Linked DNA regions of Homo sapiens: region 2 is linked to region 1. A link means that fine-mapping ties the variant in region 1 to the expression of a gene that starts in the linked region. Tissue or cell type: testis. Region 1 holds a variant in brackets; the other region holds the start of a gene. All regions are shown on one strand. Distances are between the middles of the regions. Region 1 overlaps LINC00658 (long intergenic non-protein coding RNA 658). Region 2 holds the start of LINC00658 (long intergenic non-protein coding RNA 658).

Evidence for each region.
Region 2: LINC00658 starts here. The variant in region 1 is fine-mapped to the expression of LINC00658 in testis (GTEx, PIP above 0.99).

What each region holds. Positions count from the first base shown.
Region 1 is chr20:5,423,247-5,438,481 of GRCh38, reverse strand. LINC00658 (long intergenic non-protein coding RNA 658) reads left to right here. Exons shown (of 5, transcript NR_038240.1): 2 at 1,209-1,382; 3 at 4,077-4,310; 4 at 4,412-4,693; 5 at 5,844-6,525. Among named protein-coding and RNA genes, the nearest start is that of LINC00658, 15 kb to the left of the region's middle. The variant G/T (reference allele first, on the strand shown) is at 4,192.
Region 2 is chr20:5,441,598-5,456,832 of GRCh38, reverse strand. LINC00658 (long intergenic non-protein coding RNA 658) reads left to right here and starts at 11,085. Exons shown (of 5, transcript NR_038240.1): 1 at 11,085-11,329.

The DNA of each region.
Region 1 (15,235 bases):
AGAGGATTCAGCCTGGGGTTCAACAAATTAGTGTGGTTTATTCCAGGCTGAGGTCAAGGCTTGCTGTGGTTCAAGTGCCTAAAGTTTATTTCCCAGGAAAAAATAAAGTGGAGATTTAAAAGCAGTGGTCAGAAAGGATAACTTTTTTTCTTTTCTTTTGAGACAGAGTCTTGCTCTGTCACCCAGGCTAGAGTGCAATGGCATAATCTCAGCTCACTGCAACATCTGCCTCCCAGGTTCAAGCAATTCTCCTGCCTCAGCCTCCCAAGAAGGTGGGATTACAGGCATCTGCCACTGCACCCAGTTAATTTTTGTATTTTTAGTAGAGATGGGGTTTCACCATGTTGGCCAGGCTGGTCTTGAACTCCTTACCTCAGGCAATCCACCTGCCTCAGCCTCCCAAAGTGCTGGGATTACAGGCGTGAGCCACCAAGCCCGGCCAGAACATTTTTGCAATTAGCAAAAGCCAAGGTGAATTACAGTTGATAGTTTGCATGAACAATATTTGACAAGCTTGATAAAATATGTGGGATATGAACACTTTGTTGATGACAATTTACATCAGATCTTATATAAAATGTTAATATTTTATCTTTTATTCTATAACTAACTTACTTTTTTTTAAACAAGTGAAATGTTTGTTTGTATAGACGTGTGAACATGAAGTTCCTTTTGTGTTGATATAACATCCAGTTGTTTGTTTATTGGTTAAAAATGATAATGTTCAACCCCATTGAAATGAGGGGAGGCAGAAAGATGCTGACCTCAGTAACTTTGGAAATGTTTTAGTGTGTAATACTAAAGGTGAAAAGAACTGAATTTAAGCACTGTACTGTAGTTGATAATATTGCTTCCCATGGGTCAATAATTCTGATACTCATATATATATATATATATATATATATATATATATATATATAGAGAGAGAGAGAGAGAGAGAGAGAGAGAGAGAGAGAGGAATTAAATAATTGAGTAAATGAATGGCAAGTGTTGGGAACAAGATTTCTCTCTTTTGGGGTGAAACTTTACAGATAAGCAAGGGAATCAGGAGAATAGAATGATCCATGTGGTAAAGGATTACAGTTGGAGAGATCAGTAGGAACTCATGTCTAGCTTAATATAAATGTAAATGGTTACACATAGAAATATTTATAGATATGTTTTATATACAGGTGAGTATACATTCATATATTTCCTTGCTTTGTGAGGTGAAAGTACCTGAATGAAACAACACCCAGTAGCCACTAGCACACCTAGCTCCCAGATCTGTTTTTGATGCCATTCTTCAGTAAAAGGAAGCAAGGCTGCTTGGAGAAATTGCTATCAAGGACTGGGGTAGAAAATATACAAGATGAAATTGGAGCATCTTGTAGTGCTTGAAAGTAAGGAAGTGTTGTTTTTGTTGTTGTTGTTTTAAAAAGCATTGATGGGAATATGTCAAAAGGACCGCAGAAGAGCTCTGTGTGTGTGAAAGAGCTCCCAATGACAAAACTGGAATGATTATTTAATTGACACATATTAGATATACATATTTTGGGGGTACGTGTGATAATTTGATACATCCATATAATCAAATCAGGATAATCAGATACCATCACCTTAAATATTTATCTTTTCTTTACACTAGGAACACAGCTTGAACAACAAAATAAATAAAATGATGGTGGATTATAAAACAAACTATACTTGTATAAATAAATTACTGAATAAATAAATAAATAGAGAAGATGAGGCAAATATCCCATGTTGAAGAATTCCAAATAATTGATGTAGATACTGTGCTCTCAAGGAGGGGGGCATAAATTTTCACTCCTAAGTGTGGGCTGCTCATAGTGACTTCCTTACAGAGAACACAGTGTGGTAAAGGGACGGGGTGAAGGGTAACCTTGCCGTGGAGAAATCTGACAAACACGTCTTCAGCCATCAAGGTCAACATCAACAGTGAAAGGTCATGTTGTTAGTATGTTCCCTTGATATGTGATGAAAATGGCACGTTACCTTTGGGGTCCTCCTCCTCAAGAAACCAGCCTAATCATGAGAAAAGTGTAAAATTCCAATAGACGGGCATCCTACAAACTACTTGACCAATATACCTCAAAATTATTAAGGTCATAAAAAAAGGAAAGTCTGAGAAACTGTCACATCCAAGAGGAGCCTAAGGGAACATGGTGACCAAGTGTTATGTGATATTCTGGATGGGATTCTAACACCTAAATAGGACATTAGGTAAAAATAAGGAAATCTGAGTAAAGCATGGACATTAGCTAATAATAATAACGTATCAATATTGGTTCATTAATTGTAACAAATGTACCACAGAAATTTAAGATGATAGCCATGGGGGAAACTCGGTACAGGCATATGGGAACTCTACTGTTTTCTCAACTCTTCTGAAACTCTAAAACTGTTCTTTAACAATTCAGTCTATTGTTAAAAACTCAAACAAAATGATACGGGCTATAGGCTGGATTACAATTCAAGGCTATGGACATACACAGAAGAATATTATTAACATTGATTTGACTTATTAACAGCAAAGGTATTTAATTTTCCGAAAAGATTTTCAATTGACCAACTTAAACACTTTATTCTCCAAGCATGATCTACACAGTTTGAGAAATATAATAAGAGAAACTGATAAGGTTTTTTCAGCATTGCAATAATCACCTTAGCTCTTACCTGCCTGTTTAATCCTTACAATAACTCTAGGAGGAATATGCTGTCTCCATTTTAAAGATGAAGAAATTGCAGTTTAGTCGATTGCCCAAGTTTGGACAGTTAGTAAACAATAAACAAAGATTTGAACTTGGGAAGTGTGAATTCTATACCCACAGTCTTAACCCTATGCTGCACACATACCAACATTAACAGCTGAAAATATTCCCAATAACTGAGTTGACTGACTTGCTATATGCTGTTATCAGCAACATAATAGTTAGAAATTGATGGCAGCTATTATGAATAAGGACTTTTGCTTTAGACAAGTTGATTTGTAGATTATTTTTCTGGCAGAAATTTGAAACCAGAGAACTGTTGACTATTGGATATCCTATGATTTTTTTTAATAGAGACGGGGTCTCACTTTGTTGCCCAGGATGTTCTTAAACCCTTGGGCTGACGCAATCCACACGCCTCAGCCTCCCAAAGTGCTAGGATTACAGGTGTTAGCTACCACACCTGGCTATTTTTTAAAAATCATAAAATGTGTGAAAAAATTACCATGTCAGTAAAAATTCCCTTCACACCAGAATTTGGCATAGTGTAGAAACAGGTTATTATTGAACTTAGAACATCAGGTTTTTGCCTGAAAAATTATTTCTACTTATCAAGAAATGTTCTTGAATGGAAGTGAACATTATGTCCAAGGCACTGACCTTTCATAAAAATAAACTGGAGAAAAATGCTTTTTTGAAAATAAGGACATTGACCTCACTGTTGGCTACTCTTAATGTGTTGTGTGTGAAATTCTGATTAAAGTATGATAACATTTCAAAAGTGTTGCTTAACCTAGTATACACTTTCAAGATATAATCTTTGACTGAGGAAGACTCAGTCTAGCGAAAGTCTTTTCTATAATGTGAACATGACTTTCAGACGAAGATGGTGATGGTACCATCAATATTTTGCCTTAAGAAACTTAAGAACTTAATACAAAAAATTTAAATGTACTCCCTTTAAGGGAAAGCCACCAGCAATTTCTAAACTTAAAGCAGGAAGATGAAAGGATAGAATAAATTGTGCCTTATATTCTACAATTCCAGAAGAAACATGAGCCCAACTCCGGGGTTGCACACAGTCATGCCAGTGTGATTTGGGGAGGAATCCTGAGGCTCCAGCCCTGGGCTCCAAGTTTTGATCCCTCAGCATTGGGTACAGAAGGCAGATTGATGCTGCTGGTGTGGAATTTCCTGGGGCCTGACTTCACTAACTCATCACATCTCATCATTCTTCCGTTCTCTCCTCTCTGAGTCCTTTTCTTCAGCTGTTGCACCATTTCTACTTTGTTCAGAGGGATAATGCTGGAAGGTATAGGATGTCAAGTTCACTCTGCTTTTATTTTTTATTCCCTTTGGCAGACAGTTGGCATCTGTGTGAAGATGTGAATGGAGGAGGCAGAGTAGGCAGTGAGTGCCGCAGCCACAGCTTGTGTTCTCTGCAGCCCTGGCACAGAAGATAGGAACACTCATGGGG[G/T]ATGCGGCCACTGTGATGTCTTCCCACACAAGAAGTGCCAAGTGCTTTTCTCATGCTTTTCTGGATTGTCCCATGGTGGACGAGTCAGCAGGAGTGAGATGGAGCAGCACAGTAGAGGGGTACCTGGCAAGGCCCGGAGGGAGGACCCCCTGCCCCAAACATTTCAATGATATCAGGTGACAGCCGTGATCCTCTTAGCACCTGCTCTGTTTTGTCCCAGGCCAGGATATCGTTGTACATATTCTCAGCTAAGTGAGCACCAATAGAGGAGAGGGAGAGTCTCATGGAAGTTCCTTCTAAGCCTTTGGCTCTTTTTACCTTCAACAAGGTGTGCCACCTCTTTGATCCAGCAAGTGGGAAGAACAGTCCCGGCCTCTTTGCACACAAGACCGTGATACCAATGCACCATCACAGGCCCCACAGGGGAGCTGTCCGCTTCCCCACACAGCTGCTAGGGGCTCTTTTGCATGTTCCCAACCTTTCCTGCCTTTATCTGATATTCGTAAGTACAATTGTAGAAAAGGGAAGGGCTTTACTAGTCAGCAAGTGTCAGCAGGTTGAGGATCCTCTAAAGGCATCTTGGAAAATCAAGGAAGGAGACACATGCCTAATTCCTATGCTCTGTTACCCTGGCCTCCAGCAAAGTCTACCCTCATATCAGAGAGACCCATTGTAGATAAATATGGGCTGCCAAAAGCAAGACAAGCCTTGGGCAAACTGCCCAACAGATGGTTCAACTCTGTGTGTACCAGCCAAGGGCCAACGTGTCAGACAGTAGCTTCTGTTTGTGCCTTAAGTCGGAGTTGTGAATATAAGATAATTCCGGGATGGCAGGGATCCCACAGTTATGGATGTGGGATGGTTTAGTTCCATCCAAGACAAACTTAGGACATCCTCTTTCAGGGGTTTGAATACACAGCTTTCTCTGCTACCCCCTCAAAGCGTTGGCCACCAGAGCGGAGTGGTTAGAAGGGTGAAGGGCTTTAGACAGGAGGGAAGGAATGTCCTTGCATGGCTTACAGGATGGGGACCCTAGCCAAGATCTTGGTGCTTTGGCCTGCAGGCAGCATCAGAAGCCAGCCCAGGGAGTGGGGCAGTGGCCTTGTACAGAGGGCTAGTGGTGGCTAAATTTATGTGTCAACCTGACTAGGCTAAGGGATACTCACACAGTGGGTGGAACATGATTCCTAGGTGTGTCTGTGAGGCTGTCCCCTAGAGGTTGGAATTGGACTCAGTGGATTGGGTGAAGATCTGCTCTCACCCGTGTGGGTGGGCACCGTCCAATCCACTGAGGGCCCGAATAGAATAAAAAGGTGGAGGAAGGATGAATTCACTCCCTCTACTTGAGCTGGGACATCCATCTTCTCCTTGGACATCTGTGCCCTGCTTCTCAGGCCTTCAAATCCTGGGACTTACACAGGCTCCCCCACCCCCTGTCCCCCCAAGGCTAGTCCGATTCTCACTCTGTTGGACTTGAACCAAATTACACCACTGGCTTTTCTGGTTCTCCAGCTTGCAGCCAGCAGATGGGAGTACTTCTCAGTCTCCATAACCACATGAGCCAATTCCTATAATAAATCTCATAGCTATTGATCTATAACTATTTATTCTCTGGGAAACCTTTACTAATACAGGGCTCTTGTTTCCCTCAGGTTCCTTAGATCCTGGGATGAGGAGGTGGACCAGCAGAAGGTGGGCTTGTGAAGGCAGCCCGGGGTCCAAATCCTCCTGGCTCTTCAGCTTAGCGGGTTAGTTAACATTCAGAAGCCTTCATCTCCCATCTGCAAAATGGGCATGTCCAACTCAGAAGCTGCCTTGAAGAAAGGGTCTACCCAGCATGGTGCGTGGAGCCTAAGCAGTCAGTACTTCAGGACTTCACCCGGCCCCTTTCCAATAACTGCTGCTGTCGCCCTCACAGGATGTCACCTTCAGCGTCTGAAAGCTGGGTTTGATGCGTCTGGAAAGGCGTCCCTGACAGGCGTCGTTGCCAGGAGCCCCTAGTGCCACCAGCAGCCAGCAGGGGAGGGCGTCCTCTGCCCGCTCACTTCTGACCCTTCTCTCGTTGCACCCGGAACATGGTGCAGCTGGGAGCAGCCTGGGCTGCGCGGAAGGCTCAGATTTGGGGACGGCCCTTGCCAGTGACTGTGAGCTGGGGTGTCTTGGAAACTCCCAGTCTCAGCTTCTCCATTTATAAGATGAGAATGATCATACCAGACTCAGGCAAGGTTGTTTGTGCATTAGTGAAATCAGACGTATTAAATAAAGTACCACATTGATCGTGGAGTTGTTGAATAACCAAGAACACGCCTATCTGTCTCCAAAAAATAAATGTTGAAAATGATGAGGGCGTGGCTCTACGTTGGGAAGGGAAATAGGGTGCTTGGATGAGAGAATCCTGAGGCATGGGACAGTGGAGGGATCCAGGATAGTTCCATAAGAAAATGTGCTTGCACTATCGTTTCTTTGCAGAGGCTCTTGTGTGCTGGGAGGCTGGCTGGGATGGGGAGTTGGTGGCAGAGAATAGTGTCTGTTTTCTTCCTGGTAGCTGGAGAGCTCTGCGACAGAGGACTGAGGTCATTAGGAACAAGCGGGCAGGTAGGGACAGGCGTTGGAGTGGACTAGCCCTGGTTCCCCTGAAGCTCTCTGGGGTGGAGGTGAAGGAGCTTCTAGGGCAAAGTTTGCCAGTTAAGGAGGAGACACTGTTTGGGCTGCTCCCCGAAATGGAGAACTTTTGTGTGTGCCTGGAGTGTTTCTATTTGAGAAAAACTATTTGAGAGGTGGGAAGGTGAATTATTTACCAGTAAGTTTATCCTTCTCTCCTCAGATTCTGCAGAACTTGCAGACCCATAAACAAATTAGAAATTGCTTTTCTCCTCTTGCTTAACCTAAATTTCTTTGTGGAAGCTGAAGGAAAATATGAGTAATTTTCTAACATATTCAGTTACAGAGACAGCAAAGAGAAATATTCAAGAAAAAAAAAAAACAAACCCTGAGGTGCTACTGACTTCGTGTATGTCTTAGCTGTAGACAGAATTGGGATTTCCTAATATGGGTTTGTTCCAGTACAGCCCCTCAGAAAGATTTTCATCAGCAAAACACACATTGGAGGACCAGCTGCTGTGCAGTTGTCTCTTTTAAACCATTTTCTCACTTCATTGCTAATTTTCCCAGCACCTTTCTTCTAACAGTTCTACATTTTTGATCTGCAAACAACCTGAGATTATTTCTTTCCCTCTTGGTAAATAAAAGAAATTTAAAGTAGATTCTAGAATGGGTTAGACTGTTTTATTCCAGATCCCTCAAAAAGAAGGGATAAATACTTCTTTAAAAGAATCCCTTTAAAAGAAGGGATAAAGTTTAAGCCATAAATACAATAAATGGTGAACTGCCTGGTTAACTGAGGGCTGATTCCCGGAGACGCAACCAGGGGGAGCTTCCTGAGCAAGGTAGCTACTCCCTGCCAAGGTAACCACAGCTTTCTAACAATAAGTAAAATGTTTCTACTCATATCATAGGGACCCTACAACAACATGGCCCTTTTCTCTCTGCCATGCAAAAAAGCATCAAGAAAGTAAGAAGGGGCATTTTTGAGAACAAACTAGAAATCTTAGCATCATGTCTTCTCTCTAATTATGTTGGAAACAGGCTTTGAAAAAGAAAAAAACTGAGGAGAAGATCACTAAATAGAATTCAATAAAAATGGCTTTTGATATTCTGTAGCTTGAAAGCATTTGTATTGGGTTTATGTTCTCATGGTTTTTGTTTCAAAGAGTTTAAGGTAAATTTGAATGTCCCATTCCTCTGAGAACTCAGAGAAAGCCAGGTTGATTAAGAAGTAATTAAGAGGCTGGGCGCGGTGGCTCACACCTGCAATTCTAGCACTTTGGGAGGCCGAGGCGGGCCAATCACCTGAGGTCAGGAGTTCGAGACCAGCCTGGCCAACATGGTGAAACCATGCCTCTACTAAAAATACAAAAATTAGCCAGGCATGGTGGTGCATGCCTGTAATCCCAGCTACTTGGGAGGCTTAGGCAGGAGAATCACTTGAACCCGGGAGGCAGAGGGTGCAGTGAGTTGAGATCGTACCATTGCACTCCAGCCTGGGTGACAGAGCCAGACTCTGTCTCACACACACAAAAAAAAAAAAAAAAAAAAAAGTAAGGCCAGATTCAAGCTTACTTCTTAGGAAAAAAAAAAAAAAAGGTAATTAAGAACAGGTAGACATTTTAGATAAACTAGCTAATTAGCATTCATAGTTCCTTAAGTTTTGCTCTAATAGTCTGTTATGTTTTGCAAGTATATGATGTGCATATGTAGATATAGTAGTTTATCATTAAGCCTCACCTCGTGATTATTAAATGTGATACTTTGCTCTTTTAATACTTGCAGTTCCTATTTTTAATGTGCAACAAAGTGCACAATTTTCCTTTGGTTCCAGGGAATTTGGTTAATGGAAACTCAGCTATTTTTCCCTAAGTCCCTTTTAGTCACACAAAGGTAATTCACCTGAATTTTCAGTAAATCTCACGGGAGAAAAGAATCAACTTTGGTGGTTCTCAACCTAACTTTTTTTTTCCCCAACCCAGTTTTTGTTCGGCCTCCACCGCATTTACCAAGTAGAGTAGCAACTGTGGAACTATTGCATTCTTTCTACTGAAAAGATACTATTGAAAGGAGACAGAACTTGATCTATAGAAAAAGGGAAATCATTCTTTGGGTATGGAGGCCAAAGGAATTTCAAAGACTACAACCTGCTATTAAACTGCTATATAAAGAGAAGAGCAAGTATTAAACAGAACCCTGAGACACTCGAATTTAGGAACCCGCATTGACCTTACCCTACAATTATTCCCCAATGAGGAGTGATGAGTGGCAAATGACAGTCCCTGACTGGGAGAAAGAGGCAGGTTCAAGACATAGTCTCCCTTATCCTGGTATCCTCATCTCTAAAACATTCACTATTCTTTTTTTTTTTTTTTTTGAGACAGGATCTTACTCTGTCACCCAGGCTAGAGTGCAGTGGTGGGATCTCTGCTCACTGCAACCTTCACCTCCGAGGCTCAAGCTCTTCTCCTGCCTCAGCCTCCTGAGTAGCTGGGAGTACACTCACCTGCCACCATGCCCAGCTAATTTTTGTATTTTTTAGTAGAGATGGGATTTCACCATGTTAGCCAGGCAGGTCTCAAACTCCTGACCTCAGGTGATCTGCCCACCTCAGCCCCCCAAAGTGCCGAGATTACAGGCATGAGCCACTGTGCCTGGCCTAATACTCACTATTCTGTCTCTCTCACCTTACGGGGTTGCTATGAAGTTTAGTGAGTTCAGGTATGTGACTCTAGAGGGGGCTGAGTATGTATAAGGTAGGGACCATGTTCTTGATGACTTTTGCATCCTCCCAGCACAGCTTTTGTGGAACTGTACTTTAGCTCTGTGATGGCACATGTGAAATGAAATAAATGTACACAATAAAGAAAAACACAAATGAATGTAAGACACATTTTCCAGTTCAGATTAATAAGAAGAGGCTTAGTTCTCATCTCCTTCCCCCAAATTTGACTTTACAGGGTTGCTTAGACTCAGTGGTGTGCTGGAGCAGGCTCCTACCAGCTAGAAAGAACCAGTTCAATACGTCTCTTCTCAACTCCATGTTCAGAGTTGTCAGGTTGGTAGCTTGAAACTGGCCATGCTGGAAGTATTTACAGCATGAAAATTGGCAGGTGCTACATATTATGGCTTTTTTTTTTTGTTTCAGAGAACCAATTGTTAAATATTTACTGGCACTCCACTGCTTAGATTTTACCAGTGCTTGTAAGTAATTTTCGTTTGATTTTACAGACTATGGTATCCATGAGTGTTACGGTTTTAGGGGATATGGAGTGAGCTGAAAACCAAAAGAAAAGCTCCATTCATTCACTACTCACAAATGCATCTTTGCCACTTCCCACAGACAGTATGGAGACAGACATGGTCTTAGGTCCATTCGCATTAGTCACCCTGCACAGAGACTGTGGACTGTAGTGCGTGCCTTGATTCTAGTGAAGGCCTCCTAAAGTCACAACTCTGAGAGGAGATTTGAAGCTAGGAGACCTAGGTTCAAGTTCCTTCTGAGCCATTACCAACTGTGTGATCTTTGTCAAATAATCTGATTTCTGTCATTTGAGCTGATTTCTTTGGATTGCTCATTTGTAACATAGGATAAATACTTATTTCACAGGCTTGTTAGAATAAATGGGATATTGCATGTAAAACACTCAGCATGTGGCCTGACCTATAGTGACCTCTAAATAAAAGAAGGGCAGCTATCCATCAAATTACCACGGTCATCCCAATGCTCGTCATCATGAAGGGATCATGGGTAGTCACCATGGTTCATAACTATCCGTGAAAAGGCCTTCTAAGGTCACAGGTGATTGAACCATGGTTTACTTACTCCATCTTTTTGTTTGTTTGTTTGTTTGTTTTTGAGACAGAGTCTCCCTCTGTCACCTAGGCTGGAGTGCAGTGGCATGATCTTGGCTCACTGCAACCTCCACCTCCCAGGTTCAAGCGATTTTCCTGCCTCAGTCTCCTGAGTAGCTGGAATTACAGGCACCTGCCACCACGCCCAGCTAATTTTTGTATTTTTAGTAGAGACAGGGTTTCACCCTGTTGGCCAGGCTGGTCTTGAACTCCTGACCTCAGGTGATCCACCCACCTCGGCCTCCCAAAGTGCTGGGATTACAGGTTTGAGCCACCATACCTAGCCTACTACATCTTTATAAATCCCTGATAATCTTAGATTCTCTACTGGAGCCAAGAAATCTCTTTGGGCTCTCTTTTCCCTTGATAAAGCTCCATAGAACAACCAGGTCAAACAACAGGTCAAATATTAGCATTTTATAGCTTTTAAATATATCATCCAATTAATTTAAAAACCATCATATCTCACTGTTGCTTAATAAGAAAAAGGAACAGAAGGAGGAGACCAAAATATTACCAAATATTACTAAGATGGAGCGTGTAGTTTAGTGCAAGAACTACATGGGCCTGCTTAATAGGACCTCAGAATTGGACAGACTTGATCCCCTCTCTCAGGCAGTGCTAACCAGGAGCTCATCCCTGGAGGAGAGGCAGAGAATGTGTACTCCCAGATGCAGCCAGCTTCCAGAAGAAGAGGTAGGAGCCAAGCAGAGCATGCCCACATCAATCTTCCAGCATTTAATGGCCATAGAAGTTACTGAACCTCCCTTGGATGGATAGAAGATGGCATTATCTTTCTTAAATATGATACCTCTTATCTTTTTGTTCCCTTGACACTTGAGGAGGGAGGCCAAGGGTTGATCATGCAAGCAAGTTTGTGCATTTTGCACATTTATTAAGTTATGCTTTTGAGGAAATTAAAAGATCACAAGGGCTTCAATTTTCTGTGACCCTTTTATTTACTTATTTCAAAAAGTGCTCAATGGGAAATGCCTACGTATTCTCCCCAGTGCTCCCATGTGGGGATATGTCCTCAGTCCAAAGATATTCCTCAGTCTAGGAGTTCACAGTTGGATGGTATAAACAAGTGTATTAACTCATCATTACAAGACCAAGTGACAAATGCTGTTCTGAAATATGACTAAGGGGCTATGGGAGGATACTTTATCTAGGAACATCTGAAAAGACTTTTCAAGGGAAGTCTTTAAGGATGAGCAGGCCTTTGTCCATAAGAGCTTTCTGTAGCTTCTAAATAGATGGTGATATAGATACATCCCAACATTTTTCTCCATAGGTGTGTTTCACTGGAAGTTGTAGGGGAGAGCTCCTGTTAATGTCTCTTTACCTTTCATCTCAGCCCTGTGTCCTACTCCATTTGTCTTCTGATAGCCAGTTATAGATAAACTATTAACACTCCACACTCTGTGGCTGCCAAAGCATTTGAATGAAAAACCAACATTTCAGGAAACCACAGTGGGTCATGGAGGCTTCTATTTTACCTACGTTGTACCTATCAAAGTGGTTTCCAGTCCTTTAGTTCAGGGGTCCCCAACCCCCATGCTGTGGACCAGTACTGGTCTGTAGCCTGTTAGGAACTGGGCCACACAGCAGGATGTGAGTGGTGGGCGAGCAAGCATTACCACCTGAGCTCCTCCTCCTGTCAGATCAGCAGCAGCATTAGATTCTCACAGAAGCACAAACCCTATGGTGAACTGAGCATGCAAGGGATCTAGGTTGCACGCTCCTTATGATAACCTAACTAATGCCTGATGATCGGAGGTGGAACAATTTCATCCCCAAACCATCCCTCCTACCCCCATCCCTGCCCCCATCCCAGTCCATGGAAAAACTGTCTTCCACAAAATCAGTCCCTGGTGCCAAAAAGATTGGGGACCACTGCTTTAGTTCATTTGACTCTTCATTTCCCCAGTAACACAGGCAAGACTGACATCCATTTGCAACCCCCAGTGCCATGCTGCCCATCTCCAGGGTGCAGTCTGTGTTGTGTTGGGCAGTGCCACCATGGATTGCTGACCAAGGAAAACACTTTCCTTTCTCTTTGCCACTCAAACCATCTCCCAGAGCCCCATGCTGCCTTTCCATCCTCATCCAAGATGATTCCATGACCCCTACCCCTACTCTTTCCCATACTTCAGACCCTCTCTAGGAAAACCCATCTTTCTACTGTCCCATTCTTTAGGACCCAACTCTCTGTAAGAGATGAATGAATGCATGTCAAGGGGTTAGTGAGTTATTAACAAGTTGGTCCTTTTCAGATTAATCTGGTATTTTACTTGGGCCTTCCTGGAGGCTGGACTTTAACCCAGAGAAATGAGTGAGGCGGGAAATTCCAGTTTGGGAACTGACAGCCTAGGCAGGGGTGATGGTGGAGATATTTTGGCATAGGAGGGTATTTAGGGCATCTGTAGCCTCCGATTTTACATAGTCATAAACAGGAGACTTGGACATTTAGCAGGATTATAGTTTGGGTCTCCTTAACAGGAGCCAAAGATATATTTGCAAACTTATTGAATACACACACACAGAGACACTGACAAAAATATTAACCTGACTTTTTCTAACTAATTATGTCTATATGGAGGTGGTTCAAATGCTGGTAGAAGCATAAAAGAGTGATATGATTTTTGTCTGCCTTTGAAGGTGGGTTTAATTGGTTATTTGTGCTGAGTCTGGATTGCAGGGGAAATAAAATTTGGATTTTCATCTACATACGATTTTAGTCTCTACATATTACAATAAAAGGTTGGGATTTGTCTTCTTTTTTTCCTTTCCCATCTTTTGCAAACAAGTTGCAAATGATGGGAAGGAAGCTCTCAAATGATCTTTCCAATTTCCAGTCATCATATTTCCACAATTCTATACCAAGAATAGATCTGGATCTTACTTTTCTTAAGGTCTGGCTTTAAATTAAAATATCCCGAAAGGCTTATAATAAAAAACCACAGTCTCCTGCCTCCAAGTTCTGCTCCCCAGAAACATTTACTTTTAACTCTTTTCATCATTTCTTCTGGTTGTTTCCCGCATTTAAAAAATAACATAATTGAGTCATAATTTTATGATTTATCCACATTAAACTCTATTAGCTCCCTGTTATGCCAGGTGAGGAGTTAACTTTATATATCCCCCAATCCCTTCTTCTCAAGGTAGTTATATTAATACCATCTTTTAAATTATTTGTCAATATTTATGTTATTATGATTTGAAAAATATTGTTTATGGCAAAGTTCTCAGTGTACTGTGAAAGCATTTCCTTTCTTAGGTAGCTTCAGAAAAGTGGTTGTAATCATCTTTTTGAGTGGGATATCAAGACCCTTGCTGATATAGACACCTTCTCCAGAGAGAAAACCCCTCAACTCTTAAGGACATGCAGAGGCCTTAGGGCTGGTACACCAAAGTCTGACCTATCACTGTCGCTATGATCACTAGTTTGCATGCATAGCTCAAAGGAGGCTTGGTATGTCAGTTGTACCTAAGGAATGCTTTCTGTGTACATGTGTCCCATGCTTTAAATGTAGGCTGCAGGAGCAGGGTGTATGTCCTTGGATAAGCATGGCTTTCGGAGTCAAGAAGACCAGAGTTTAAATTATCATGGTAAGCAGAATACTTACCCCCGCAAGTGGTCCATGCCCCAGTCCCTGGAACCTGTGAGTATGTTATCTTACTTGGCAAAAGGGACTTTGCAAATGTCATTAAATTAAGGATCTGGAGATGGGGAGATTATCTTGGGTTATCTGGGTAGGTCCCATGTAATCACAAGGGTCCTTGTGGGAACTTTATAGGACCAAGGAAAAGGGGGAGGCAAGAGAGTCAGAGGAGATGTGATGACAGAATCAGAGACTGGAGTAACACACTTTGAAAATGGAGTGAAGAGCCAAGGAATGCAGGCAGCATCCAGAGGCTGGAAAATGTGAGAAAATGGATTATCTTTTACAGCCACTAGAAAGAACAGAGCCCTACTGACCCCTTGCTCTCCCACTGCCCTAAACCTCCACCTTCCATGATGAGGGGCCCAACCTGAGAAACTGAGGTCCATTGCCAAACAGCTGCACATGCAGCTGGTCTGGGAGTCAGAGATGCTGAGGGGTGACCCAGCAGGAGCTGCAGCAGCCACAACCAGGAGGCTGAGCTTATGGACAGGTAAGCCAGCAGGTGAGTGATGCCATGCACAAGCAGCAACAGCACACTGATCCCCTAAGAGTACTGGGAATATGGCTGCCATTTCACTTCCATCTTCCAAATCTCTCAGCACATCTCCTGTGGCCATGCTCACTTACACATGTGCAAGGAAGGTAATTCTGGAAAACCTACTTCCAGCTAGGTTAGGTTGACACAATCCAGATCTACCCATCCTGTGTGCAGGATTCTTCTCAGCATGATGCAGTGTGGTACTCAGCAACCGTTCTTCCATGTTCTGGAGAGCATGAAAGAAGTTAAGACAGGACCTCTGTTTTCAAACTGTCATTTGCCGTCTGTATTAGTTTGCTCGGCTGCCACGACAAAATGCCAAAGACTGGGTGGCTTAAACAACAGAAATCTGTTTCCTCACAGTTCTGGAGGCTGGAAG
Region 2 (15,235 bases), 18 kb before region 1:
CTGAGGTGAAAGGATCCATTGAGTCTGAGAGTTCAAGGCTTCAGTGAGCTGTGTTCATGCCACTGCACTGCAGCCAGGGCAACAGCAAGACCCTGTATCAAAACAAACAAACAAAAAAAGCTGATGCATTCATGAGGATTGCTAACTCAATATCGAGCAGAACAAGAGTTAATTACATGGGACTAAACTAATAGAGGACTGAAATTTTTTTCTTACTTTTGGGTTTGAAACATTGCTAATTCTTTTGTTTTCCAGTCCAGAAAACTTTTTTTTTTTTTTGAGACAGAGTCTTGCTCTGTTGCCCAGGCTGGAGTGCAGTGGCACAATCTCAGCTCACTGCAACCTCCACCTCCCAGGTTCAAATGATTCTCCAGCCTCAGCCTCCAAAGTAGTTGGGATTACAGGAGCGTGCCACCACACTCAGCTAATTTTTGTATTTTTTAGTAGAGATGGGGTTTCACCATGTTGGCCAGGCTGGTCTTGAACTCCTGACCTCAGGTGATCCACCTGCCTCGGCCTCCCAAAGTGCTAGGATTACAGATGTGAGCCACCACGCCCAGCCAACTTTTTTCTTTTGAACTGTTTACAGCACACAACAAATTAAGTAAAGTATACTGTTTTGAGCAATATTTAAAGCATATTTCTTTCCCTCTAGCTGATTTCTTCAGAATTTGGAAACTATTGTGAGTGTTATTAATTTATGGCAACATGGTTATTTGCATAAGTTCAATAAGAATCTGTTTTCTTGTGTAACAGGACACAATTAGAGACACTGGTTATTTTTCCAAGGCTTTAATTGGAATGGTATATATTCAGATATGACCAGAAAGTTTTGAGGAATGGAGGTTGACTCTACAGAGCTAATAAAAATCCATTGGAAAGACTGGCCTATTACCTTGTCTATGCAATTCCTTTACAAAGTTCCTGACCCATGTCACTTTCTAATGAGCCCGGGAAACTTGAGTTATTTTGAGACCTTGAGAAAAGAGAAATTTTTTTTTTTTTTTTTTTGAGTTGGGGTCTCACTCTTTCTCCCAGGCTGGAGTGCAGTGGCATGATCACAGTTCTTGTAGCTTCAACCTCCAGGACTCAAGTGATCCTCCTACCTCAGCTCCCCAAGTAGCTAGGACCACAGGCATGTGCCACCACACCCGGCTAATTTTTTTTTTTTTTTTTTTTGTGGATAGGGTGTCTCCCTGTGTTGCCCATGCTGGTCTTGAACTCCTGGGTTCAAGTGATCCTCCCACCTCGGGCTTCCAAACTGCTGAGATTATAGGCATGAGCCACTGTGCCCGGCCTGAGAAGAGAGGAATGTACCCAATTTGTACAGGTATCTGAGGGCACAGATAAAACCTTGGATTGGCTAACCTCAAGAGGCTTTTAAAAGTCTAATCTGAGATTCCTTAGGAAAAGTTCCAGCAAAGCCAGTTGAAAAGGGGCCTTGTCTGGTCACGGTGGCTCACACCTCTAATTCCAGTGCTTTGGGAGGCTAAGATGGGAGGACTGCCTGAGGCCAGGAGTTCAAGACCAGCCTGGGTAATATAGTAAGACCCATCTCGACAAAAAATAACTGGGCCTGGTGACGCATGCCTATAGTCCTAGCTACTCGAGGCTGAGGTGGGAGGATTGCTTGAGCCCAGGATGTTGAGGCTGCAGTGAGCCATGGTTGTGCCACTTCACTCTTGCCTAGGTGACTATTAAAAATTAAAAAAATAAAAGAAACCTATACAGCCCAATCATTATTCTTGCTGTGCCTTATGCAAATAATCAGGCCAAGGATAATGAGACTAAAACATATTTTGCAAATAAATTGGTCCTAACATGATTCGTTTTTTGTAGAAATGGGGGACTGGAGATTAAAAAAAAAACATATGTTTCAAAAGAAACTATAGTACACTTGTTATTAGATTCTACCTTTGAGGAGGAGGAGGAGGATTATTATTATTATTGAGATGGAGTCTTGCTCTGTCGCCCAGGCTGGAGTGCAATGGCACGATCTTGGCTCATGCAACCTTCACCTCCTGAGTTCAAGTGATTCTCCTGTCGCAGCCTCCCAAGTAGCTGGGATTACAGGTTCGTGCCACCACACCTGGCTAATTTTTGTAGTTTTAGTAGAGACAGGATTTCACCATGTTGGCCAGGCTGGTCTCGAACTCCTGACCTCAGATGATCCACCCACCTCAGCCTCCCAAAGCGCTGGGATTACAGGCATGAGCCACGGTGCCCAGCCTTTGTTCGTTATTTTTAAGATCTTATTATTTGTCTACAGTTTAGACTGGATCCTGAACTTTTTCCTGGCTATACACCTCTAAACTAACATTAAAATTTTTTTTTCTTTTTCTCCCCTTTTTTTCCCTGACTTGAAATTACTAGAAATTAAAACTGTGCTTTTCTTAAAGCTCTGCAAACTAATGCTATATACCTTAAGCTTTGGGAGAAATAACAGCAACTTACATATAAGCAACTGTTTTGCCTGCTGATGTATGCACTTTTCAGAAAGTTCATTTAAACACTTGATTCAAACTACAGTCCAGAAAAACCTGTCAGATTGCTGCTGTAATGAAAATGCTTCAGAGACTCATAAAAAACTAACCTAGGGTTAGAATAATGATTGCCCAAAGAATATATATATATATATATATATATATATATATATATATATATATATTTTAGTATTTATTGATCATTCTTGGGTGTTTCTCAGAGAGGGGGATGTGGCAGGGTCGTAGGACAATAGTGGAGAGAAGGTCAGCAGATAAACACATGAACAAAGGTCTCTGGTTTTCCTAGGAAGAGGTCCCTGCGGCTTTCTGCCGTGTTTGTGTCCCTGGGTACTTGAGATTAGGGAGTGGTGATGACTCTTAACGAGCATGCTGCCTTCTAGCGTCTGTTTAACAAAGCACATCTTGCACCGCCCTTAATCCATTTAACCCTGAGTTGACACAGCACGTGTTTCAGAGAGCATGGGGTTGGGGGTAAGGTTATAGATTAACAGCATCCCAAGGCAGAAGAATTTTTCTTAGTACAGAACAAAATGGAGTCTCCTATGTCTACTTCTTTCTACACAGACACAGTAACAGTCTGATCTCTCTTTCTTTTCCCCACATTTCCCCCTTTTCTTTTCAACAAAACCGCCATCGTCATCATGGCCCGTTCTTGATGGTCGCTGTCTCTTCGGAGCTGTTGGGTACACTTCCCAGACGGGGCAGCCGGGCAGAGGCGCTCCTCACATCCCAGACGATGGGTGGCCGGGCAGCAGCGCTCCTCACTTCCCAGACGACGGGCAGCCGGGCAGAGGCGCACCTCACTTCCCAGACGGGGCGGCCGGGCTTAGGCATTCCTCACCTCCCAGACGGGGCGGCCGGGCAGAGGCGCTCCTCACCTCCCAGACGGGGCGGCCGGGCAGCGGCGCTCCTCACCTCCCAGACGGGGCGGCCGGGCAGAGGCGCTCCTCACCTCCCAGACGGGGCGGCCGGGCAGAGGCGCTCCTCACCTCCCAGACGGGGCGGCCGGGCAGAGGCGCTCCTCACTTCCCAGACGGGGCGGCCGGGCAGAGGCGCTCCTCACCTCCCAGACGATGGGTGGCCGGGCAGCAGCGCTCCTCACTTCCCAGACGATGGGCGGCCGGGCAGAGGCGCTCCTCACTTCCCAGACGGGGTGGCCGGGCAGCGGCGCTCCTCACTTCCTAGACGGGGCGGCCGGGCAGAGGCGCTCCTCACCTCCCAGACGATGGGTGGCCGGGCAGCAGCGCTCCTCACTTCCCAGACGATGGGCGGCCGGGCAGAGGCGCTCCTCACTTCCCAGACGGGGTGGCCGGGCAGCGGCGCTCCTCACTTCCCAGACGGGGCGGCCGGGCAGAGGCGCTCCTCACTTCCCAGACGATGGGTGGCCGGGCAGCAGCGCTCCTCACTTCCCAGACGATGGGTGGCCGGGCAGCGGCGCTCCTCACATCCCAGACGACAGGCGGCCAGGCAGAGGCGCACCTCACTTCCCAGACGGGGCGGCCGGGCTTAGGCATTCCTCACCTCCCAGACGGGGCGGCTGGGTAGAGGGGCTCCCCACATCCCAGATGATGGGTGGCCAGGCAGAGATCTCCCCACTTCCCAGACAGTGTGGCGGCCGGGCAGAGGCTGTAATCTTAGCACTTTGGGAGGTCAAGGCAGGCGGCTGGGAGGTGGAGGTTGTAGCGAGCCGAGATCACGCCACTGCACTCCAGCCTGGGCAACACTGAGCATTGAGTGAGCGAGACTCCGTCTGCAATCCCGGCACCCCGGGAGGCCGAGGCGGGCAGAACACTCGAGGTCAGGAGCTGGAGACCAGCCCGGTCAACAGGGCGAAACCCCGTCTCCTCCAAAAATACAAAAACCAGTCAGGCGTGGCGGCGCGTACCTGCAATCCCAGGCACTCGTCAGGCCGAGGCAGGAGAACCACGGGAGCCCGGGACAGGGAGGCTGCAGCGAGCCGAGACCACGGCAGTACAGTCCAGCCTCAGCAACAGAGGGAGACGGAAGGGAGGGGGAGGGGGAGGGGAAGGGACTGAATATTTTAATTGAAGACACAGTCACATAGCTTAAATCAGCTTCCAGGATTACTTTCCCTTTGTTGCTGTAATTTGGCATTGGTCCTTTTCTGATGTAATTTCCCCCTCTCTAGGATGTGACCACCTAAGAGGGAGGCTTCATGGTGACATAGGATTGGATAAACCAATAAACCACAATCTCGTGTCTTCCTCAACGCTTTCTCCAAAAGCTTTGAAGAACAGGGGGAATGTAAAGGAAATTTAAAAATGTCAGGACCTCCAAACTTAAGCCCAGATGCTGAGTCATGCAACACCCACTTTCAAATGAATACCTGTTACTAGCATTATGCATCAGCCAGATCCCCATGGAAAGGTAAAAGGCCTCAAGCATCTACAAAGCCCTGCCCCCACAGATCATTCATAAGTAAATTCTCTGCTGGCCTCCTATAAGCAAGGGAAACAGGAACATAGGAGAGCCAGGGTGACACCATTTTAAAATGAACTCCATTTGAAAACCAGGAAGGCACATTCTTTGCCAATCACAAACTATGGTCATAAGATTTTTCAATTGAGGAAACAGCCCAAGGATACCTACAAGGACACAATCCTACAACAAAAGAAAGTCCAGATGTCTCAATACCCATAATAGTATATGCTTTCAAGATAATTATAATTATGCTTTGATGCACTCACACACTAAAGTGTCAAGGATAGATTCCTTTCCTTCTCTTTTCTTTTCTTTCTTCCTTTTTTTTTCTCTTTCTTTCCTTCCTTCCTTTCTCTTTCTTTCTTCTCTCTGTTTCTCTCTTTCTTTTTTTTTCCCAACAGAGTCTCACTCTGTTGCCCGCGATGGAGTGCAAATGGTGTGATCTTGGCTCATTGCAAACTCCACCTCCCCACAAACTCCACCACCCTGGCTCAAGAGATCCTTCCACCTCAGCCTCCTGAGTAGCTGGGGCCACAGGCGTGTGCCACCACGCAGGCTAATTTTTGTATTTTTAGTAGAGATAGGGTTTTGCCTTGTTGCTCAGGCTGGTCTCGAACTCCTGAGCTCAAACAATTTGCTGGCCAGTCTCCCAAAGGGCTGAGATTACAGGAATGAGTCACCGCACCCAGCCAATAGTTTTCTTTTTTTTCTTTTTTTTTCTTTTCTTTTTTTTTTTTTTTTTTTTTTGAGGCAGAGGATCGCTCTGTCGCCCAGGCTGGAGTGCAGTGGCGCGATCTCCGCTCACTGCAAGCTCCGCCTTCTGGGTTCAAGCCATTCTCCCGCCTCAGCATCCCGAGTAGCTGGGACTACAGGCGCCTGCAACCACGCCCGGCTAATTTTTTGTATTTTTAGTAGAGATGGGGTTTCACCGTGTTAGCCAGGACGATCTCGTTCTCCTGACCTCGTGATCCACCCGCCTGGGCCTCCTAAAGTGCTGGGATTACAGGCGTGAGCCACCGCGCCCGGCCTTCTTTTTCTTTTTAATTTTTTTGTAGAACAAATTTTATTTTAAAAATAGGGACGAGGTCTTGCTATGTTGTCCAGGCTGATGTTGAATTCCTGGGCTCAAGCAGTCCTCCCACCTTGGCCTCCCAATGCTAGATTACAGGCATGTGCCACCAGTAGTTTTCTTTAAATCAACAGAATAATAAATTTGGTCATGCTTCCAGCCCACCCACACAGGTAGACACAGCTTAGTTCAGTCTCCACATAGAGAAGACTCCTATATACGAAAAATGTAAAGACGAGGCATTCCTCCGCTTGCTTTCTGAGGACACCCTACCCTGTATTTGAGTAGCCGTCAATAAACCTTCCCTCCCCACTGAACTCTGTGACTTGCCTGGAATTCCCTCCTGCACGAGATCCAAGAACTTTCTCTTAGGGTCTGGATTGGGACCTCTTTTTTTTTTGGCAACACAAGGACATGCCAATTGTAACTTTAGGTCTACAAACTAAGTCTAGTTCTTAATTTCTTTTTTTTTTTTTTTTGAGACTAACTCTCATTCTGTCACCCAGGCTGGAATGCAGTGATGCGATCTCGGCTCACTGCAACCTCTGCCCCCTGGGTTCATGCGATTCTCCTGCCTCAGCCTTCCAAGTAGCTGAGATTACAGGTGCATGCCACCATGCCTGGCTAATTTTTTTTTTTTTTTTTTTTTTGAGAAGGAATTTCATTCTTATTGCCTGGGCTGGAGTGCAATGGCGTGATCTCAGCTCACTGCAACCTCCGCCTCCTGGGTTCAAGCGATTATCCTGTCTCAGCCTCCTGAGTAGCTTGGACAGGCATGCGCCACCACACCCAGCTAATTGTTGTATTTTTAGTAGAGATAGGGTTTCACCATGTTGGTCAGGCTGGTCTCGAACTCCTGACCTTAGGTGATCCACTTGCCTTGACCTCCCAAAGTGCTGGGATTACAGGCATGAGCCATTGTACCCGGCCTTAATTTTTGTATTTTTAGTAGAGATGGAGTTTCACCATTTCATCCAGGCTGGTCTCGAGTTCCTGACCCCAAGTGATCTGCCCGCCTTGGCCTCCCAAAGTGCTGGGATTACAGGCGTGAGCCACCGTGCCCAGCCTAGCTCCTAAAATTAAAGTTGATTCCATGCTGATAATGTTGATCGCAAGCTTAGATAGAAGTGCAGGTGCAGAATAAAGACAAGACTCATTCCTATACCTACCCAGAGACATCTGCATACTTGACTCTTCCTTTACTCTCTTTTTATTTTCAAACATCCAATTTGTCTTATGTAAAATGTAGATTTACCAGGCAGCAGCTAGAGTCTCACAGGAATGTAGCCATTCGCCTTACCACCTGTCTGCCCTTTTTCCTAAAAGCCTTTCCCCCATTTAAGGAAATGTGTAAATACTAAATCCCCTGAAACTCTCTTGAGAAAAACAGCCACAGATGTACCTGTGGCTTGTATTTTTCCCGGAAGCACCCTCAAGCTGACTTAATAAACCTCGATGATTGAGATTTATGCCTTGGTCATTCTATTCAGATGTCAGAAGGACCCATGGGAAGACTCAGAGAGAAAGGTCTGTAGGAAGAGGCTAAGGAGCCCAATCTTCTCCCAGAAAATGGACGCTTCGGGTGGTCATGAATTGTAGGGCTATTGGTACTGGGGTGAGTAAAGAGGAAGAGAAAGAGAGCAAGGCCCCAAGGAGAAGGGGAAACAGGGAGGGAGGAAGGGGCCATGCCCTGTCCTCCCCTCCTCCAGTGTCCCTGCCCCTCTCCAACTTCAGAATTCCCATTGCTCCTTGAGAACTCAGACACTAGCTTCCCCACCAAGGCCTCCTCCCTCTGCATTCCCCCAGCCTGTCCATTCTCGGTCACACTGACTCCGAGTCTGGTCAGCTGCCTGTATGCCTGTCTCACCCAGTTAACTTAAATTCCTTGGGGTCAGGAACAATGCTTTCTTCTTATTTTCCATGCCACAGCTCCAGTTACTGTGACTGACACACAGAAATATTGGCTTGGAGTCGATTATCTCAGGGATGCAGCTCAAAGTAAATGTGTCTTGTATAGAGTGGGCATAGGGATGCTTTAATGAGGAACGAGCAAGTCCCAAGAGGAGCAAGGAAAACTTGAGCTGCAACCACTTTGCATTTCAGATGATGAATTAGAGCGGTTGTTATCGAATCTGCCACCAGAGGGCGATCCAGGTAAAAAAGATCTTCGGGCTACTCTTCAGCCCGGTGACCTGATCTTCCCCCAAACTCAGATCCTTGCTGCCTCCCAGAAACAGCAGACACCTAAGTCCAATGTAGCTTGCCAGGATCTCAGGGAATGAAATTTTATAGTTTGCTGGCATTTTCCTCAGGGGAGCAGAGGCAAGAAAACAATCAAATCCAAGTTTGCGCCACTGCACACCAGCCTGGGCGACAAAGCAAGACTCCCGTCTCAAAAAAAAAAAAAAAAGAAAAGAAAAGAAAAGAAAAGAAAAGAAAGAAAACAATCAAATCCATGGTCTGCTGTTTACTGGATGAAGAATAAGACTGCCTAAAGGCAATGTGTTTAGTACAAAGGTGTCATAAGCTCTGAGATGGTTCCTGCTTTACCAATTTCTGGAAGTGTGACATTAAAGCAACCATTCTCTTTTCTGGGCCTGGTTTTCCTCTGTAAAATGTCAGTTCAAGTTCCAGCCTGTCTTGGGATGTCATCGGCCTTTACAACCTACTTGGGCTATGGCCCTGCGATTAAGTGCACAGTGGAAGCTTAGTCCCCTTGCTTTTCTGCCTCTCTTAGGGAACCACAGTCACAGAAACCAGCACTTGCTGCCATAGGAACTGCTAATATCTTGGACATTCCCTGTATTCTCTCCCAGCCCAAACAGGCATAGCCAGAGGAGTGAGACATGCAGAAAAATGAAAGAAGCCCAGGGCATTGTTCAGCAGTGAGCCTAAAGTCTGTACATGCGATAGCATAATATTTGTGAAAATTCTTGCAAAATGCAAAGCTGATGGCATATGACTTGTAACTCATTCTTGTATATAACAGTAGATCAACATGCAACTGAAGAAAGCACTACTCAGGATGGAAGTAGCCTTGGGAGGGAGGCAAGGAGTAGTGAGGAGGGAGAGAATGAGCTGTTTCTGTAACATTTCATTTCATAAGAGAGATGGATGGACTTCAAGCATCTGTGGCAAAAGGTCACCTCAGATAAATCTGATTGGTTCCAAATTATTTTCTGTAATCCTCCCTATGTTTGACTCATTATTTTAATTAAAAAGAAAAAATATTTAAAGTAATTTTAAAAATAACAGAGCTCACCAGCCCCTTAGAGCGCAGCTTGGTCTAGGGTAGTTTCTTTAACTAGCAGAGCTTTCTGTAGATACAGACATGCGTTCACAAAGTATCTTTAGGTTTCCCAGGCCCGGAGGGGTGAGATAATACTAAGGGAGGGAGATCTGCTCTTGGAGGAGGGACCTGCTCTAACCAGCCCTGTAGCTCTGCAAATCTTTGGGATTTTGTCCTTATCTGTAAATAGGGATGACGTTTGTCCCATTTATCTCATTCAGTTATAATGTGCATCAGATAAGATGATATTTGTAAAAACAACTTGAAAATACAAAATGATGTACACAGGTATTATTTAGTTGTGAAGCTCTAAGTCCTGAGGCCTCGTTTATATTAACAATAGCAATAAAAATAACAATACAGACTGGGCGTGGTGGCTTACACCTGTAATCCCAGCACTTTGGGAGGCCAAAGCGTGCAGATGACGAGGTCAGGAGTTTGAGACCAGCCTGGAGAGTATGGTGAAACTCAGTCTCTACTAAAAATACAAAAATTAGCCGGACATGGTGGCGTGCGCCTGTAGTCCCAGCTACTCGGGATGCTGAGGCAGAAGAATCGCTTGAACTCGGGAGACGGAGGTTGCAGTGAGCTGAGATCTCACCACTGCACTCCAGCCTGGGTGATAGAGTGAGAATCTGTCTCAAAAACAAACAAAAACAAACAAACAAAAAACAATACAATGGCAAGGGAAGAAATAAAAGGAGGGTGTCTAATGTGGTAAGGAGGGAAGGAAAAATGAAGAAAGAAGAAAAACCTATTGAAAATAGCCAAGAAAACAGCTGCCCTTCTAAGATACTGACTTGAGGGCTTTCAAAATAATGGAAATTATGCTTCACAAAAAATAATCCCAATGGTCATGGTCATTAGAATTTAGAACAATATTTATATGGCTCCCTGTGGTGAATCAACAATTATTTTCTATGGCTTCAATTTTCAGAGTTTAAATAATGAACATAGCAATACCACCAAAGAAACATTCATTAAATATCAATATAAAATAAAGTGGAAGAAAAAGAGAAAAACAGCAAGCTGCTGATTGCAGTGTTTGCAACCGAGACTCTGTTCTGCAAACCCTGGGGGATCAGCGTGGATTGAGCTATTACTAGAGGTTGGGGTTAAACACGGTAGGCTATAGACTTTCTGGGGGAGAAACCAGTCAATTTCTATTCTGAAAACCTGGCACTGCCTAAGAAAATCCAAACCCTTCAAACAGAAGCTTCGCAAGAGTGTAGTTAATGGCATAAAAGAGTGCTCAGAAACTCACCCACAGAGACTTTCTGATAGCTGATGCCAGGAACAGCAAAAAGCAGAATGTCCAGTTAGGGATAGTTAACCAAGCCCCTCTCAATTCTTCTTCTTGAGGCTATCCTCTCCTCACTGGTCCCCATTTTATAATCATGCTCAAGGAGCCTAGGCTTCTCTTCTTCTCTTACAGCATGTTTAATATCACTACTTTATCCATTCTGTACTGTTGCAGGCTGAAGGTGACATTACACTTAGAGGGATCCACAGATTCAAGAGGCTGCTTGGGGAGGGCAGCACAGTGAAGTACAAGGACTTTGACATCAGAGAGGCCTGGATTCAAGTCCCAATTTCTGTGTGTGGTAACCAGTCTGCAAGACAGCCTGTGATGGTTCCTGCCTCCTCGTATTCATGTCCTTCTTAGTTCCCTTGCGCATTGAATCAGGGCTGGCTCTGGGTGACCAATAGAATGTGGAGGAAGTGATGGGGTGTGAATTCCGAGGCTAGGTCACAAAAGGCATTGTATCTTCCACCTCTTAGATCTCTCTCTCTGCGGAAGCCAGCCACCGCTCTCCAAGGACTCTCGAGCAGCTCCATCTACAGATTCACATGGAGAAGAATTAAGGGTTCCTGCCAATCACCAGCACCACTTTGCCAGCCTTGTAAGTGGGCCACCTTGGAATTGGAGCCTCCAGTTCCTACTGACATCTGACTGCAACATCATGAGAGACCCTGAGTTTGAACCACCCAGCTGAGCTGCTTCTGAGCTAACCCACTGAAACCGTGAGAAATAATTATTGTTTCAAATCCTAAATTTGGGAGTGATATGTTATATAGCCATATTAACAAGAACTTAACCTAAGTATTGGGGGCATTTAGGGCTGATATTCATTTGGGAGGCACCTGTACAGCTGTATCAATTGTTCAATTATTTAAATATTTCTAAGTTGCTTGGTAAAAAGTCCTGTGCTTGAATTAACCTGATCTTGAATTGCAAGCTCCCTGAGGTGCCTTGCAAAGACAAATCAAATCCTCCTCAGAGGAAGGTAACATTATCCTTGCCCTCAAATTATTTCAACAAGTATTTTACAAATACCATGTTCAGCACACAACCAAAGATAAACTGACATATGGTTAAAAACAGAATGTTTTTAGACACCCAGAAGACATCCTTCACTGAGGGCTTATGTGATAGAAAAATTAAGCATATGATGACAATGGATTCAGTGTATGGCCCGGAGAAAGAAACCAAAAGTTGGGAAAGGTGTAAATGGCCCTAATGGGAAAGGAAAGAGGCTTCCATTGCTTCCCAAGACTGGGACCCATCTCTAAGAATCACAGAGAACAAATCTGTCTCCTTGCTGTTCTCCAGAGGGTAGTTGGACCTCAGATGGGTTAACCAGAGAACCAGGACCCCCAGAGCGCAAACTCCCATTTTTCTGAACATTCCCATGTCCAAGTTTGTCTGGAGAACATCCAAGTTGCCTCTTCAAGGTAGCCGGCGCCATGGACCTTTAAAAGGGACCAAAGTGTTCAGAGGACCAGGAATCCTTACTTGAATGTTCTAGACTGCAAGACACCTAGAGATTCGTAGAAAACATGACTGAGGGAAAGTGCTCCTCTAACCTGAAGGATGGAGACTTAGACCAGCTAGTATCAGATTGAGGGGAAAAAATGAGGTTTTGTTTTTTTTTTCACCAAGTATGTAAAAAAATTAAAACCCACTGTAGAATATTAGCAAGATCTTCAACAAGTCTCTCATTATACAGATGAGGAAATTAAGAACCAGGAGGTTAGAAATTCAGTCCCAGCATGCTGACTCACAGAACATATGTGGACTTTTCTTATACTCCACTGCTCTGATGAATATTGTTAAACACTATTTCTTCCTTACTCTTAGGATATCAGGGCCTTGAATGTCACAGACTACCTGGCACTTGTTTCCCAACAAGCTAATATTGACCCACACAAACTGAAAGCCTCAATTTGACATTATTTGTAGCATCCCCTTGTCCTTTTCTTTCTAAACCCAAATTCCAGTATCCACTGCAACCTTCTAGGTAGGCATCCGCAAAAGGTCTTTCTTCTGATCCTGCCAACTCATCATGGTGCATGGTTTTGAGTAGTGCCATAGAGAATATCTTAATTTCTCTGAGCTTTAGTTAAGAGTGATATACACTGGAAACAAGGAGCTTCCTGCTTCCTCTTTGTAAATTTTGATAAGAGATTCCCCAGTGGTCGGAATTTGCCAGGGACCCCCAGCCCCATTCATGCATGAGCTCTTTATCCCTAAAGATGATGAAGGAGAGCCTCAGTGCCTCTCTGCCAGTCTTGGGAGGCAGGAATGATCCAAATAATTTCAAAGATTTCTCCCAACTCTAAGAACTCTGGCCATATAGGGGGAGGAATGCATTAATTACTAAAAATAATTTAAAAAATGATTTAGTATAATTTCTGGGGTGCCTACTCTGTTTTACCAACTACCCCTTCCACCTCCATCTACCACCATGATTTTCATTATCTTCTCTGCACCTCCATGGCAACCTCTGTCGTGGTCTGGAGAAACTTAGCCTTCAATTCCAACTATCTGTCAAGACCTGAGCAAGTCCACTAACTCTTCTGAAACTCAGGCTCTTCAGTAAATGGGCCTAATGAAGAGGAAAGAGGCTTCCATTGCATCCCAAGACTCAGACCCAGCTCTAGGAATCACTGAGAACAAATTCATCCACATCCACTTGCTGTTCTCCAGAGGTAGCTGGACTTCAGATGGGATAACCAGAGAACTAGAACCTCCAGAGCCCAGAGTCTTATTTCTCAAAATTCCCATGTCCAAGCTTGGATGGACAACACCCAAGTTGCCTCTTTAAGGTGGCCTGAACGATGGACCTATAAAAAGGACCAACATGTTCAGAGGACCAAGCATCCTTACCTAAATGTAAGGCTCTCTTCCTGCATCATGGCATTACTGTTAGGAGGGACTGTATTAGTTTTTTTTCACACTGCTATAAAGAAATACCTGAGCCTAGGTAATTTCTAAAGATGTTTAATTGGTCCATGAATCCACAGGCTGTACAGGAAACATGGCTGGGGAAGCCTCAGGAAACTTACAATCATGGTGTAAAGGGAAGCATGGAGAAGGGGAAGCAGGCTTGTCTTACATGGCTGGAGCAGGAGGAAGACAGAGAGGGAGGGTGCTACACACTTGTAAACAACCAGGTCTCATGAGAAGTCTGTCATGAGAACAGCACTAGAAGGATGGTGCCAAACCATTAGAAAGTGCCCCTATGTCCAATCACCTCCCACCAGGCCCCACCTCCAACATTGGGGATTACAACTGAACATGAGATTTGGGTGGACACACAGATCCAAACCATATCAGATAGTAATGAACATGGAGGAGCAGCCCAGTATCCAGCACAAAGGCCCTCAGTAAACAGAAGACTCAGAAGGAGGGCCACCCTGTCTCAGGAGCACTGATTGGCCTGCCCTTCTTTCCTTCAGCCTCCTGGAGGGCAGGGTCTGTGTCTTCTTTATCTGTACCCCGAGCCCCTAGTCCTCATGGCTAGTAGGCACTTCACGAACTCATTACTCCAACATTAGAGGTAGAGAACCGGGAGAGTGGCTAAAAACAAGATTTAGACTCTTTAAGCAGGTAATATAGAAACACAGCCAAATGTTCTTAGAGATGAGTTGTACTTTTCAGCTTTACTTGGCCTTTTAATATGACTGTTACTGCTTTAGCATATGTCAAAATAATTGACCAAGATGGGCAAAAAGTCACTAAGAATGAAAGCACTTCCATTAAGGAATATTTTATTTTCCATGAGGTCTTTGAGAGCTTAGAGAGAAATTGAAGCAATAGTGAAATAATAGACAGTAGACTGCTGCAATTAAATGTGATTTACCACAACTTAAGTATCACTTTCAGATAGTGTCAAATTAAAGCATTTAAGAAGATTGCTGAAAATAGGAGACTTTTTTCTTATCTAAGTGAAATGCTGGCACACGAGGCCTCCAAAGGGAAACTGCCAGATGCTGCTTTATGTGCTTGGCGTGTTTGTGCCTAACATCTCCATAGTGTTTTTGAATTTTACATTATCTGCAAAATTGCCACTTCATTAGAACTGCCTCAGAAACTCCCTTTTCAACGATGGAGGTAGCCGTCAACGTGCATCTGTGCTGCCCCATTCTCATTTCAGAAATGTGGGAGTTATTTTCAAAAATACCTTTTTATTTAATTTTGAATTTTGTGTGCCTTCAGGAAAAATAGTCGTTGGTTCAGGAAGTCAGAGGGATGACATTAAAATCAGTATATTTAATATCTCTCTTTGTTTAAATGGTTAGGAGCTAACAGTTCCTGAAGTTCGACCTCATTGCAGTGATATATGGCATAAATTCCCAACATAATTTTGTTTTAGCTTTGACAGTAGTCTCTTACAATTTGAGGTTTAAAAGAATTTGAGTAAAAGTGGATATAGAATACCCTTTCTTTCTTTCTTTCGCTTGCCTTATTGCCCCGGTCAGAACTTCCAATACTGTGTTGGATGGGAGTGGTGAGAGAGAGCATCCTTGTCTTGTGCCAGTTTTCAAGGGGAATGTTTTCAGCTTTGGCCCATTCAGTATGATATTTGCTGTCAGTTTGTCAGAAATGGCTCTTATTATTTTAAAGTATCTTCCTTTAGTACCTAC